Homo sapiens: one gene and its partner. The gene in region 2 interacts genetically with the main gene of each other region. Each region holds a gene or a part of one and is shown on either strand. Other genes may lie near its edges.

Region 1 (7,998 bases), 750 kb from region 2:
CCACTTTTGATGGTGATACACAAAAAAGCCCACTTCTTTGACCTCCCACCTTGGTGCTTCACCTGCAGGTTACCATGTAGCTCACCTATGGGGAAATAGGTGCTTTAAGCCTTAACCCATCTCTGCTTAGGCCAGATCAGAACAGGCAAAACAATGTAGCCTTTTGTGCATGTGTGTGAAGAAATTGGTTAAAATTCCTGAAAGTTACGGTGTGGTTATAGCTTATGTGGTTGTGATAGGATGGTCAGTTTTCACCAAAAGCTATGGACCTCTGAGGGCCCTGCTAGTGAAAAGGAAGAGAATTATGACCAGAATTATGGGAGGGCCAGAGTGGGGAGCTCTGCAGATATTCCTGGATTGATTGAGCCTGTCTTGAGTGGTGCAGGGAAGCTACTTGGGAGGAGGAGGCTCAGAGACAGCAGAGTGGGAGGGTAAAGGATGTCCTCAGGAAGGAGGTGACATTTGAGTGGGTTCTGGAAAGCTGTGCAAGAATTGGCCAAGTAAAGAAAGGGAGGGACAGGCACTCCAGGCAGGGAAGAAGCTCTGGTTAAAGGCATGGAGGGGTCGATAGAGCAGGCAGAAAAGAGGATTCCTGAGGTTAGGGAGGGGTGGGGACATTCCTGTAATTATCCGTGAGGGGAGATTTTGGGTCCAGGACCCATGGCTGCTTTCTTGGCTCCCTCAGTGGGGCCCAGAAACCACACAGGTAGCTGTGGGACATGGAGGTCTGCTTAGCAGTGCCTAGTAAGAAAGACTTGGTCTGCTACAGGCTGGGCATGGTGGATCACAAGGTCAGGAGTTCGAGACCAGCCTGGCCAACATGGTGAAACCCCGTTTCCACTAAAAATACAAAAAAATTAGCTAAGCACAGTGGCGGGTGCCTGTAATCCCAGCTACTCGGGAGGCTGAGGCAGGAGAATCGCTTGAACCTGGGAGGCAGAAGTTGTGGTGAGCCGAGATCATTCCACTGCACTCCTGCCTGAGCAACAGAGTGAGACTCCGTCTTAAAAAAAAAAAAAAAAAAAAAAGACTTGGCTACAAGGGAAGGAGCCTATACGAGGACAAAGGACATTGTCAAAGAGAATGGGGTAAATATTTTCATTTATTTATTATTATTATTTTGAGACAGAGTCTTGCTCTGTCGCCCAGGCTGGAGTGCAGTGGATGCAATATTGGCTCACTGCAACCTCTGCTGCCCGGGTTCAAGCGATTCTCCTGCCTCAGCCTCCCGAGTAGCTGGGACTACAGGTGCATGCCACCACGCCCAGCTACTTTTTGTGTTATTAGTAGAGACGGGGTTTCAGCATCTTGGCCAGGCTGGTCTTGAACTCCTGACCTCGTGATCCACGAGAATGGGGTAAATATTAAAGAGTCCTAAGTGTTTGAAATGCTTGTTTTCTGGTGCTGTAAAGAAATAGCATTTGAACGTAAATTCAATTTTTTTTAGCAAGGCCATATTTATACTTTCTGCAGAAAGGGTACACTCACCAGTTGTTTTGCCATGAGAATACATTGAATAAAGGAGACAGGGTTATTTATAACTTGATGTGTTTACTCTGCTGCTGTATCCAGTTTTTATTGGCTGGAACAGGACCTCACATTCTGTATTTGTCCCAATTGGCTAGCAACTTAGAACTTTTTTTTTTTTTTTTTTTTGGAGACAGAGTCTCACTCTGTCGCCCAGGCTGGAGTGCAGTGGCATGATCTCGGGGTCACTGCAAGCTCCACCTCCCGGGTTCACACCATTCTCCTGCCGCAGCCTCCCAAGTAGCTGGGACTACAGGTGCCCGCCACCACGCCTGGCTAATTTTTTTTGTATTTTTTAGTAGAGATGGGGTTTCTACGTGTTAGCCAGGATGGTCTCGATCTTCTGACCTTGTGATCCGCCCGCCTCAGCCTCCCAAAGTGCTGGGATTACAGGCATGCGCCACCACACCTGGCCAGAACTTTTGAAAAGAGGCAAAGGCAGAGGAGAATAAAGGAAGGAGGAAGTAACTTGTGGAATGCTGAAAAAGGTAAAAATAACCTTTAAATAAGGAAGAGGAACAGGCTATGATCTAATGCTTGCTTGGACTAATATAAGCATGCCAAGGTAAATATTTAGGCTAAATTGTGGGAGCTAAGAATATAAAGTACATTGATTTCTTTATTATGGCTAGCAGATATTTAAGAATGTTAGTACAGGTCTTTGAATAAATTTTGCTTTTAAGAGAAGTTACTATTTATTTCTAATTAGATGGGGAGGAAAGTCTTTGAAGAGGAACCTCTACTTTACTTTTTACATAAGCAACCTGGTGGCTGCTGGGGAAACCCTTAAAACACTGGGCAGTAGAACTCCACTGAGGTTAGTGTCAGCTCCCTTGAGGCCAAGAGCAGCTGCTCACTTGGGAGTTTTGGCTGCTGTCGCTTGGCCTCTGGGCCCTCCTGGGGCTGGTTCTGTGCTCCTTAGTCCGTGGGAAGTTACTAGACCCAGCTTCATTTCCAAAACATCTCAAGCTGCCATTTGATAAGAGTAGCATTGGAACACAGAATCAGGCTTATCCCTGTTGCCTAGCGAGGGCTTGGCTGGATGGTGGGTGTTCCTGGATCTTGTATGAATCTCTCCTGCAATATCTGGTCCTTTCAGAGTTTCCTGGGACAGATTGACCCTAGTAAGGCTAAGGAATTGGGATAGTAGTAGCATCTTCCGTCTCTGCGCAGTACTTTACATACATGATCTCATTTAGACCTTATAACAGCTCTGCAAGGCTGGTACTGGTGAGGAACTTGAGACTTAGTAGTGCAGTACTTGTCCCAGGTTGTCCAGTGCAAAGGATAGCAGGACAGGGCACAGGGAGAAGAGCACGGAAACACCAGTGGGAATACAAGGTGACAGGCTCTGTTGGGAAGCTCTTTTTTTTTTGGGGGGGGGTGAGATGGAGATTTACTCTTGTTGCCCAGGCTGGAGTGCAATGGCACAATCTCGGCTCACCGCATCCTCCACCTCCCAGGTTCAAGTGATTCTCCTGCCTCAGCCTCCCGAGTAGCTGGGATTACAGGCATGTGCCACCACGCCCAGCTAATTTTGTATTTTTAGTAGAGACGGGTTTCACCGTGTTGCCCAGGCTGATCTTGAACTCCTGACCTCTGGTGATCCGCCTGCCTCTGCCTCCCAAAGTGCTGGGATTACAGGCCTGAGCCACTGCGCCTGGCCAGCTCTGTCTCTTGATTAAGGTGGAGGATATTCTCAGCTTGTCTTTTGGGACCAGGCAGACCAGAAATGCTGGAGCATATTGGCAAACCAGCAGCCTAAGGATTTGGAAGAAAGGCTGGTCAGAGTGTCAGTTGCTTATCAACCAGCTGAGAGCCTGAACTTTCCGGAAGACATGGCTCTTGGGTAGCCACTGGGAACAGGCTTAAAACAGCTTTGGTTCTTTGAGTTCTTTGTGGGGAGTGATTGTCTGGTGTGAATCACAGTTGATAGTGCCCTGAAAGGTTCAAGGCCACATTTCCCAGGGGAAGATAAGCTTTCCACAATGTATAGAAACTCAGAAAACTCCAAGTTCTTTATGCTAAGAAACAAAAAGGGCTCAGAAAGGCTGAACACAAAGTCAAGGAAGAGAAATTGATAACTTTTGGTTAAAGGGAAGAGTTTCCAGCCTTTTGGCCAGGGCATCCACTACCAAGTCCAAATCCTGACTTGGCCTCAAGCTTTTGTAAAGGGATGCATCGTGTCCCTTTTGACCTGCTGATAGTTTTTTTGAGATGGAGTCTCACACTGTCACCCGGGCTAGAGTACAGTGACGCGATCTCGCCTCACTGCAACCTCTGCCTCCCAGGTTCAAGTGATTCTCCTGCCTCAGCCTCTGGAGTAGCTGGGATTACAGGTGCCTGCCACCACGCCCAGCTAACTTTTGTATTTTCAGTAGTGATGAGGCTTCACCATGTTGGCCAGGCTGACCTTGAACTCCTCACCTCATGATTCGCCCACCTCAGCCTCCGAAAGTGCTGGGATTACAGGTGTGAGCCACCATGCCCAGCCGACCTGCTGATAGTTTGATAAAACAGAAGTTTTACTTTCTGGAATTTCTACTCATTTTATGTTTTGGATGGTTTCTCTCTCCGTAAGCATTCAGTATTCTTGAATCTCAAGTTTTGAAAGGAGCCCTAACTTCAAGTCTACTCGCTGGCTTCTTAATGAAGTGAACCATTTCTATTGCCCATTTAGTTCTTCCTGAAACCCTGACATTCTGGTGTTCATGTGACTCTTCTTTCCCCCTTGCTACTCAGAGAAAGCGTCGTGGTGGAGCAATAAATTCTAGACAAGCTCAGAAGCGAACTCGGGAAGCAACCTCCACCCCCGAGATCTCCTTGGAAGCAGAACCCATAGAACTCGTGGAAACTGGTAAGATTGCCAGGGACACTACAACTGTGGGGTGTTAAAGTGGAGAGAGAACACTGTACCAGGGTGAGCTAGTAGAAGGTGCTTTCAGTGTCTTTAGAAGGCCTATGCAGTCTCACACTCACCATGTACAACTCAAAGCTTCACAGATTCTGAAATAGCTTCTCAACTGGGCTAACTGTTCAACTCTGGTAATGTGCAGCAGTGGGGTAGGATCCATTTAAAAAAAAATCTAGCGCAAATGAGATAGCCCACCTTTTCTATCTGAAACTGCATCCCCAATTGCTGGACCTTGTAAAGTACTTCGCTTTCCTCTTCTGTTTTTCATTAGGACATGAAATCACCCAAGAAGGCAAACTTGTCCACAGAGCTCCCTGTGTTGGAGCTTGGTATAGGCAGAGGCCAGATTGGATTTCCCCTTCTGCCTGCTCAAGAAGTGGTTGATGGCTGGCCTAAGTCCCTTTGCTCTGCATATATTGTTTTTATAACTAGGATACCTGCAAACTGGCATTTTATTTTTACTTATTTATTTTTGAGATAGAGTCTTGCTCTGTCGCCCAAGCTAGAGTGTAGTGGTGCAGTCTCGGCTCACTGCAAGCTCCACATCCTGGGTTCACGCCATTCTCCTGCCTCAGCCTCCCAAGTAGCTGGGACTATAGGCACCCGCCACCACACCCGGCTAATTTTTTGTATTTTTAATAGAGACAGGGTTTCACCATGTTAGCCAGGATGGTCTCGATCTCCTGACCTTGTGATCCACCCGTCTCGGCCTCCCAAAGTGCTGGTATTACAGGCGTGAGCCACTGCACCCGGCCATGCAAACTCGCGTTTTAAACAGAAGAAACTTAGTGCAAGATAAATTTCATGGGCCCCCCAGGAGAAATGAAGTTCTCTATATGGTCTCTGAGTTTCACTTCTACAAATGAGTTCTTGAAAGCCTTGACTTGAGGCTAGGATCCTGGCTCTAGACCAAAAAGGAACGAACTGCTTTCCGTCATGGCACTTGTCATCCTCTAGGCAGTCTTACCCCTGTGTGTACTTAGGGCTGCCCATTAGAGCACTGTTTTGTTTTTGTTTCTGTTTGAGGCAGAGTTTCGTTCTGTCAGCCAGGTTGGAGTGCAATCGCGTGATCTCGGCTCACTGCAACCTCTGCCTCCCAGGTTTAAGCAAGTCTCCTGCCTCAGCTTCCCAAGTAGCTGGGATCATAGGCGCCCACCACCACACCCGGCTAAATTTTTTTTGTATTTTTAGTAGAGACGGGGTTTCACCATGTCAGTCAGGCTGATCTCGAACTCCTGACCTCAGATTATCCACCTGCCTTGGCCTCCCAAAGTGCTGGGATTACAGGCCTGAGCCACCCGCCTGGCCTAGAGCACTGTTTTTGTAAGAGCCCAGAATTGTGTTCACCAGAAAGAGAATGGTTCAATAAATTGTTGTATATCAGTATATGGACTGTTGGACAGCCCTTCTTTTTAATAAAGAATGCAATAATTTTATATAAATTATATTGTATATGTAAGATTATCACGGTTTTTATTCTTGTGAAACTTTATGATACAAGAAAATAAAACAGGCCAGCCAGATTGCTTGAGCCCAGGAGTACCAGACCAGCCTGGACAACATAGTGAGACCCTGTCTCTATAAATAAAAAAATTAGCCAAGTGTGGGAGGCTGAGGTAGGAGGATCACTTGAGCCTGGAACATTGAGGCTGCAGTGAGCCGTGATCGTGCCACTGCACTCTAGCCTGGGCAACAGCAAGACCCCACCTAAAAAATAAATAAAAGAAGTTACGTTGGGTTGGGCGCCATGGCTGGCTCCTATAATCCCAGCACTTTGGGAGGCCGAGGCGTGCAGATCACCTGAGGTCAGGAGTTCAAGACCAGCCTGGCCAACATGGCGAAACCCCATCTCTACTAAAAATGCAAAAATTAGACGGGCGTGGTGGCGGGCGCCTGTAATCCCAGCTACTTGGGAGGTTGATGCAGGAGAATCACTTGCACCTGGGAGGCAGAGGTTGCAGTGAGCCGAGATCGTGCCACTGCACTCCTGCCTGGACGACAGAGCGAGACTCTGTCTCAAAAAAAAAAAGTTAAATGCATTACAAGACACTTTCCCCAAATATTAGACCAATACTGTTTCTTAAAAAACTTCATTTAGTGTTTTGTTGTTGTTGTTGTTTGTTTGTTTTTGAGATGGAGTTTTGCTCTTGTTGCCCAGGCTGGGGTGCAGTGGCGTGATCTTTGCATCCCGGGGTTCAAGCAATTCTCCTGCCTCAGCCTCCCGAGTAGCTGGGATTACAGGCATGTGCCACCACACCTCGCTAATTTTGTATTTTTAGTAGAAACGGAGTTTCTCCATGTTGGTCAGGCTGGTCTCGAACTCTCAACCTCAGGTGATCCGCCCACCTCAGCCTCCCAAAGTGCTGGGATTACAGGTGTGAACCACTGTGCCTGGCCCATTCCGTGCTTTTTAATATTAATATTAATAGTAATCAGAAATAAAAATGGTTGTGCGTCATTTTTTACTTTATATAAATGGAAGTTGTACGTTAACTGTTTGGTCCATGTCCTTCTCACCTTTATCCTGTGCACATGTAGACATCACAGTATACCCTAAGGGCTGAAAGGCAAGCTTCACAACAGATGCAACCCATTTTGTATGTTGAGGTTCTAGCTATCAGTATATATCACTGTTATTCTCCATCCAACTAGGGAGACAAACTTGAGAGATAAATGGAAATTAAAAGTTTGTCCTTGGCCGGGCACGGTGGCTCACGCCTGTAATCCCAACACTTTGGAAGACTGAAGTGGGTGGATCACAAGGTCAGGAGTTCAAGACCAGCCTGGCCAAGATGGTGAAACCCCATCTCTACTAAAAATACAAACAAAATTAGCCAGGCATGCTGCCAGGCGCCTGTAATCCCAACTACTCGGGAGGCTGAGACAGAGAATTGCTTGAACCCAGGAGGCGGAGGTTGCAGTGAGCCAAGATCGCACCACTGCACTCCAGCCTTGGCGACAGAGCGAGACTCTGTCTCAAAAAAAAAAAAAAAAAAAAAGAATTTGCCCTAGATTAACCGATGAAGTTACTAAGCTAAGCCTGACTTTTGGTCCTTGGGCCAAGTGAGAGTGGTCAGCTTCACCTGCTGGGAGGAGCAGAGGTTTCAGGCTAGTCCATCCCAAAGAGAAAGGCCTGGGGCTGGGCATGCATGGTGCGTTCTCCCAGATGGGGCACAGAGGCATAGCCGTGTGGAAGTGGGATGCCGTGGAATAGAGGTATGCACATGCGCACACATACATAACCCCCCAGGTACATTTGTAAAAACCATACCTCCCCACTCAGAGCAGAATTCTGGAAGGGTGGTTACTGGCTTTCCCTCCTGAGGGAGGTGTTGGTCCTGGTGCTCTTTGCAGTGTATACTTCAGGATTGTTTTAGTTTGGGGTAAGCCTATAACATTAGCAGTCATACTAAAGTGTAGAGGGATACAACCTTACTTTCCTCTTAATCTTAATGCTTGTTGAAATACTTTCTTTTGAAGCTGGAGATGAAATTGTGGACCTCACTTGTGAATCTTTAGAGCCTGTGGTGGTTGATCTGACTCACAATGACTCTGTT
Region 2 (5,777 bases):
CTGGGAGCAGCTGGGCCAGGGACGCAGGTGTCAATGGCCAAGGAGGTGGAAGGGTGGTGGGCCCTGTGAGAACACAGCTCTAGTCTCTGTGCTGGGCCTGATGACCTGCTTCAGTGCCATGGGCCAAGTCCTGAGGCTTGTGTATGTCATATAAGCTTATGATGTCACTTGACCATGAAGGCTCCAGCAGCTCCAGCAGCTCCCACAGCTCCCATCTGCAGGGCAGGAAGACCACCTGTACTGTGGTTTGGGAAGGCCCTTGCAGAAGCACCCAGCCAGGCCCATGCCCTGGGGCCACTTCCTCATCCCTGGCTACAGAAAACACGGGGCCTGTCCCTGCTGGCAGCTGCCTGGGGGACCCTCCATAATGCCAGATGTTAGCTGGTGGGACAGTTTCTGCCCCTGCTGGAGAAGCACTTAGGAGACTGCTTCCTAAGACTCCAGCTCAGCAAGGTCTAGGTTCTCATGAAGCAAAGCAAGCCTCACACAGCAACAACTGATGGTTTCCATTTTTTTCCTTTAATTTGGATGTACAATGTTTGCAGCAGTTAAAAAATTAAATATACATCTCTCGTCAGTCCTTCCCTTTGCTCTCAGAAGCATTCAGGTCTGGGTGGGGCTCCGGGACTCGCCCATCACAGCCCTGCTGGCTCCAGGGGAGCTCAAGCTCAGCTGACAGTCCCTCTGACCACGGTGCAAAGCAGTGAGACCTGGACAAGGAGGCCCCACTTGGGTCAGAGCCCACCCTCCGTAGGCAGGTCCACGTTGGCCACGATCCTCCAAGGCTGGCAGTTACCACCCAGATTGCAGCGGGAGACTCTGCTCTTAGAAACAACTGAGGGGAAGGCGTTCCTTTGACTGCACCAGAGCGTGACAGGCACATGGGGGAAGAGCGGCCCCTGAACCTTCCAGGTTGCCTTCAGTTGTCATGCGGCATTCTGAGCAGCTCCCTCCTTCCCAGGAGGCCCAGGCCCGGCAAGCGAGTGTCCTCGTCTGAGCCATCCTGAGCTCTCCAAGGTCCCTCAGCAGCTCTCAAGATCTTCCTTCTTCTCACTCCTACACGTGACCCCTCTGGAGGACAGCTCCAAGTCTACCCTGGCCAGCAGCTGTGGTCCCGGGTCCTCCCCGCAGAGGGAGGAAGCGGGGGAGGGACAAAGCCCGATGAGGATGTCTGCTGGGAAGGATGCTCACAGGTAGCAAGAGAAGCCTGACTCCACCCACCAGACACACAGAACTAACCTCACTCCACCCCGCAACGGGAGGAAGTTCCACCTGCCAGGCGGCCACACACCGAGTTATTGCTGTCTACTATCCGTCCCGAGCTCCACGTGGGGCTCATCTCAGCTCCAAGAGGAGGAGCTGTTCATTGGCTCCGAGGGCTCTGAAATGACCCCCTCCATGAAGATGGGGGCGAGGGGTGTCCTTTAGGGCACAGGGCCTTCTCAGATGCTACATTCTGGGTGTCTGGAGGGGGTTCAGCTTCACATTTTCCCCTTGAAAGGACACATGCGCTGGCAGAAATGAGGGTGGACAGTAACAAAGAGCACTTGGCAGCTGGAAACATCACCTACATAGACTCAGCTGGGCCCGCAGCGGAAGGGAGGCACATTTTGGGAAAGAAACACGCTTCAGTGCATTGCCAAACAATTCTACCCTGGTTTCATTAAAATCTTTCCCGATATTACCAGCAGGAAAACAAAAGCAATCTCCCCACAGCCCACCCCCAAAACTTGACAACCAAATTAATCACATTTGCAACAAAATTTGGATAATACGATGGGTGCTTGCCACAGATTTTTAGGAACATGATAAAGTCTTCCTCCCTTCTGCAGAGAGCTGATATGGAGACCATCTTCGCCAGTGGGATCCTAGTGGGCAATGAATGAGCCCTGCCCTGACCACGTCCCACGCCTGGATGTCCGTCACGCGGCTAACTTGACCTGGCGGGTCTAAGGAAAGTCAACTTCCAGGAAGAACCGACACGGGCACTCTTAGAGGCCATGCATCTCCGTCTTGAGAGGTGTGTGTGTAAAATTATAGATGTGTCTATATGCACATGCATGGATACTTTATGTATATGCGTGGGTGAAGTCATTTTTACTAATGAGCTCATATTCATCTCCGGAGCACACAGGCAGGTCTTTGGGGGTGGGGGACACCTACTGCCAGAGCGGGGTGTTCTGAGCCCCTTGCTAAGGACTGGTTTAGATCACGTCGTAAACAAGAGGAAGACAAACTCTATGTTGAGCCCAGCGATATGCATTCCAAGGGAATGGCTCTGTTTTACATTCACAGTGTTATTTCTTACAAATGTAAACATCTAGCCAGGAACAACATCTGGCCTGTGATACTGCTGTCTCAGAGCTGCTGACATAACCTGCGGGGGAGGCGGGAGGCGGGTGGGGAGCAGCCAACAGTTCTGAGAACTTTCCCCTCGTTCCCAAACCTTCTAGCGGGCTTTCCAGGAAAAAGCTAGGATGAGAAACAGGAGCCCCCAACCAATACGGAATGGTGATTTTCTTACGTGTTATAATTCAGTAGCTTCCCTTAAGGGCCTCCTCAAACATCGGACCCCTTTCTACCGCTCCTGCTGCCCCGCCACGAGGACGAGGTGGTCCTGGCTGGGGGAGGCCTCTGTTGGGAGCTGGTGGGAAAAGCCTCATACAGGCCTGGCAGAGGCTGCTCAGAGGAGGGGCTCCCTTTCAGCTCCCCCTCACGTATGTGGGCAGCATACAAGTCCACATCTCAGCTGCTCCCCAGCTGCCACATAGGAGAGGGACAGGTGGAAGCTTGGGGGTCTCAAGGCAGCACCTGCACAGAGTTCCAACATTTCCTCCACTTACCACATTCAATACCCAAAACATCGACGGGCATGACCAAACCAAGCCACATGACAGTCGCCAACCTTGCCTGGCTCGCCTCTAGGGCTGAGGAAGCAGAGCCCCTGCCTCGTCTCACAGCCAGTCGGCAAGCAGAGCTCCCAAATCCAGCTCCTACATCAGCAGCAGCCCGGCCATCCAGAATCCACTTCCATTTTAATGACTTGGCTCCTCTGGGCCTGCAAACAGGAGGCTGGTCCAGGGACCTGGCCTGGGGATAGGAGTGGCGGCTCTGACAGGGCCGTGGGGCAGTCTCCGATGAGCACAGATCTGCACTCTCCTGACTAAAAGGGGTCACCGTGCAAGATGTCAGCTGGAACGGGGGCAGAAGGGATGCTGGGCTCTGTCACTAACAGTGCCAAGACACCAAGCTTTGCTGTTGACCGAGAGAGGCTCAGACAAAACACAGCTCAGTGACACTCTTAGGGCATGCATCCATGGAGCAGCAGGTCCCAACACCTGCCAGCCAGCTCCTAGGCAGACGCCACCCCAGGGCTAGCAAGGAACAGGAGTGGGAGGCCCATGTCTCTGGACACAGTGGAGGCTGCTCACAGCCAGGGAGGGCTGGCCTTCTCAGCTGAGTGACAGGGAGGCTGCTGTCCCTGACTGGTGGGTGGAGAACGACAGTCGTCTGTGCCCGAGGAGGAGGGGCTGCAGGTGAGCGCACCCCTAGGATAATGGGGGCCTGTCCTCAGTCCTGCTGTGGCCACCTGCCCACTAACGCCTCTCTACATCCCAGTCACCTTGTGAATGCATAAACAGGAACATGTACAACGGAAATGTCAGCGGGTGCTCAGGAGGGCTATGCCAGTGGCTACAGGAGAGGGAGCGTGGCCGGGGGCCCTGTCCACCACCCCGGACGCTGTCGCATGCAGCACAGGCCTTGCGATTCACATACTTTACACGGGCATAGAAAGAGTTACGTTAAAATTAATCTCTTTACTGATATAATTAAATTTTAAATCCTGAGAAGAAAAGAGAGAAGGGAGAATGGTGCCGGGTGTCTAGCACCCCCAGCCACTGGCCCAGCACAGGCCATGGCATCTGTGCATCCAGACACGGGGCGTGGCATGCACACCCCACCAGGGAGACCCAGGCCAGTGTTCCCAAAGCCTGCTCACGGCACCTTCTACTGCAGGACAGCAGAGGGGCCAACAGCCAGCCTGCAGGAGGGAGGACTTCTGGCCCAGATGCAAGAGCAGCTGCAACCTGGCAACAACCAGCAGGTGACTATCAGGAGAAAGGACCTGGTCACCCACATGGGGTGCAGCACAGCTGCTCCTGCTTTCTGGAAGGCCTCAGGCTCAGCCCCACCAGGACTGCAGACACTCCCTGCCTGGCCACTGCCACAAAGAGCACTTCTGCCACATGGCAGAGACACGCACGTTGCCTGGCCGCCCGCGGCATGTGCGGAAGCCCATAGGGACCAAGCTGGCTCGGTGGAGGCAGGGCACAAGGGCGCAGACTTCCAAAGGCTCCGGCCCCAGCTGCCGCCTCACAGTCTCTCCCACCATGGCGCTCAGCAGGTGGTGACCTTGTGGACATTTCGTAAACAAGTCAGCAGCCGGTGATATGGGCTTCCTGGGGCTGCAACCACCTCAAGCACAGACTGGAAGGCCCTGCGGTCGAGCTCCTCCTCTATCTGGTGTCTGTAGAAGTCTGTGGCGACCAGGCAGAAAAGGTTCACGTCCACCTGCTCCAGCTTGCCCATCCTGCTGATGACATGTGGGAGGCTGGTGCAGGAGTTAAGGAAAAAGGCCGGCAAATGAGGGGAATGCTGCCTCCCTGTCCTCACCTGGGAGTTCCTCTCCTGAAACAGTCTACAAAGGGGTCCAGGGAGCCTGGAGAGCGAGCAGAGCCCCGGAAGGGCCACCTGGATGCCTCCAGCTGCATCAGCGCCTCCACCTCCATTCCTGCAACCCTTGGCTGGCTGGATGCCCTGCAGGCAGGGCACCCACTCGGCAGCACTCACCTGGCCTGGCTCCTGTGCAGCGCTGGTGGCCGGTGCTTCCGCTGGCCTCCACTAGCCCTGCTCCAATGCAGTGAGGGCAGAGCCGTGCCAGGCACGCCGGGCAAGGCTGTGCTGTCAGCACCAGGACAACTGTGCTGCTTGGAGGCTCTTGTGGTCTGTCTTGGGGAAGGGCTGTGGAAAGGGAAACTCCTGGCAGCCAGCATCTGGGGGTGGGAACTGGATCTTTACTTAAGCCTTTCCCCGAGAGGGCGATCGAGGCACAATGACCAAAGCTAATGAGAAGCAGTGTCAGGAGAAGCCCAGCCACACAGAGCCCGCGAGTGGGCGGGACGTCTGCAGAGACCACCGCCCACCCTCGCTCCCCTCACCCAGGCCCTCCACAGAAAGGCCCCTCAGCTGCGACCCTCCTGCCATACACCGGCCCCTCTGAGAGGCCCTGGTCAGCAAATGTCTGGACGTGCTCCTTTCTGTACCCCTGTCAGCATTTTACTTCCCTGGGGCTGAGGGCCTGTCACCCTGGCATCTGTGGGGTTTTTGCAAAGGTTAGGTTTCAAAACCTTATCATGAAACATGAGCCTCGGTGTTGACAAGGGAAACGGGGCCAGCACCAGGGACCCAGAGAGGATACATCGCCGCGACCCACGGGCTGGTGGACGCGCTGACAAAGAAGCAGGAGAGGCTCCACGTGGCCATGGCGACCGGGGCCCTCTGCGTGAAGTTGGAGAGGGACAGCATGACCCAGTCCCGGACCATGGACGACTGCCCGGTGCTGTGCAGAGTCTGAAACACCTGCAAGGAGCAAGCAGGTGCCTGAGTGTCAGGGCTGGGGGGACGGGAAGCACCTGCTGCGCCTGGGTGGCGGGGGTGGGGTGGGGGCCAGAGGCATTGCTGCTTTAAAGCGGAGGAGCTGGGCTCTGCTGGCGAAT

What was found.
Region 1: of HTT (region 2) and RNF4, changing one suppresses a phenotype caused by changing the other (phenotypic suppression), as found in Homo sapiens cells (one study listed by BioGRID).

The regions. Positions count from the first base shown.
Region 1 is NC_000004.12:2,492,738-2,500,735, forward strand, and holds part of RNF4 (E3 ubiquitin-protein ligase RNF4), read left to right. Parts: intron 1-4,269; coding exon 4,270-4,384; intron 4,385-7,921; coding exon 7,922-7,998. UniProt on the Homo sapiens protein: E3 ubiquitin-protein ligase which binds polysumoylated chains covalently attached to proteins and mediates 'Lys-6'-, 'Lys-11'-, 'Lys-48'- and 'Lys-63'-linked polyubiquitination of those substrates and their subsequent targeting to the proteasome for degradation.
Region 2 is NC_000004.12:3,238,681-3,244,457, reverse strand, and holds the end of HTT (huntingtin), read right to left. Parts: intron 5,641-5,777; coding exon 5,480-5,640; intron 4,613-5,479; coding exon 4,399-4,612; 3' UTR 501-4,398; downstream 1-500.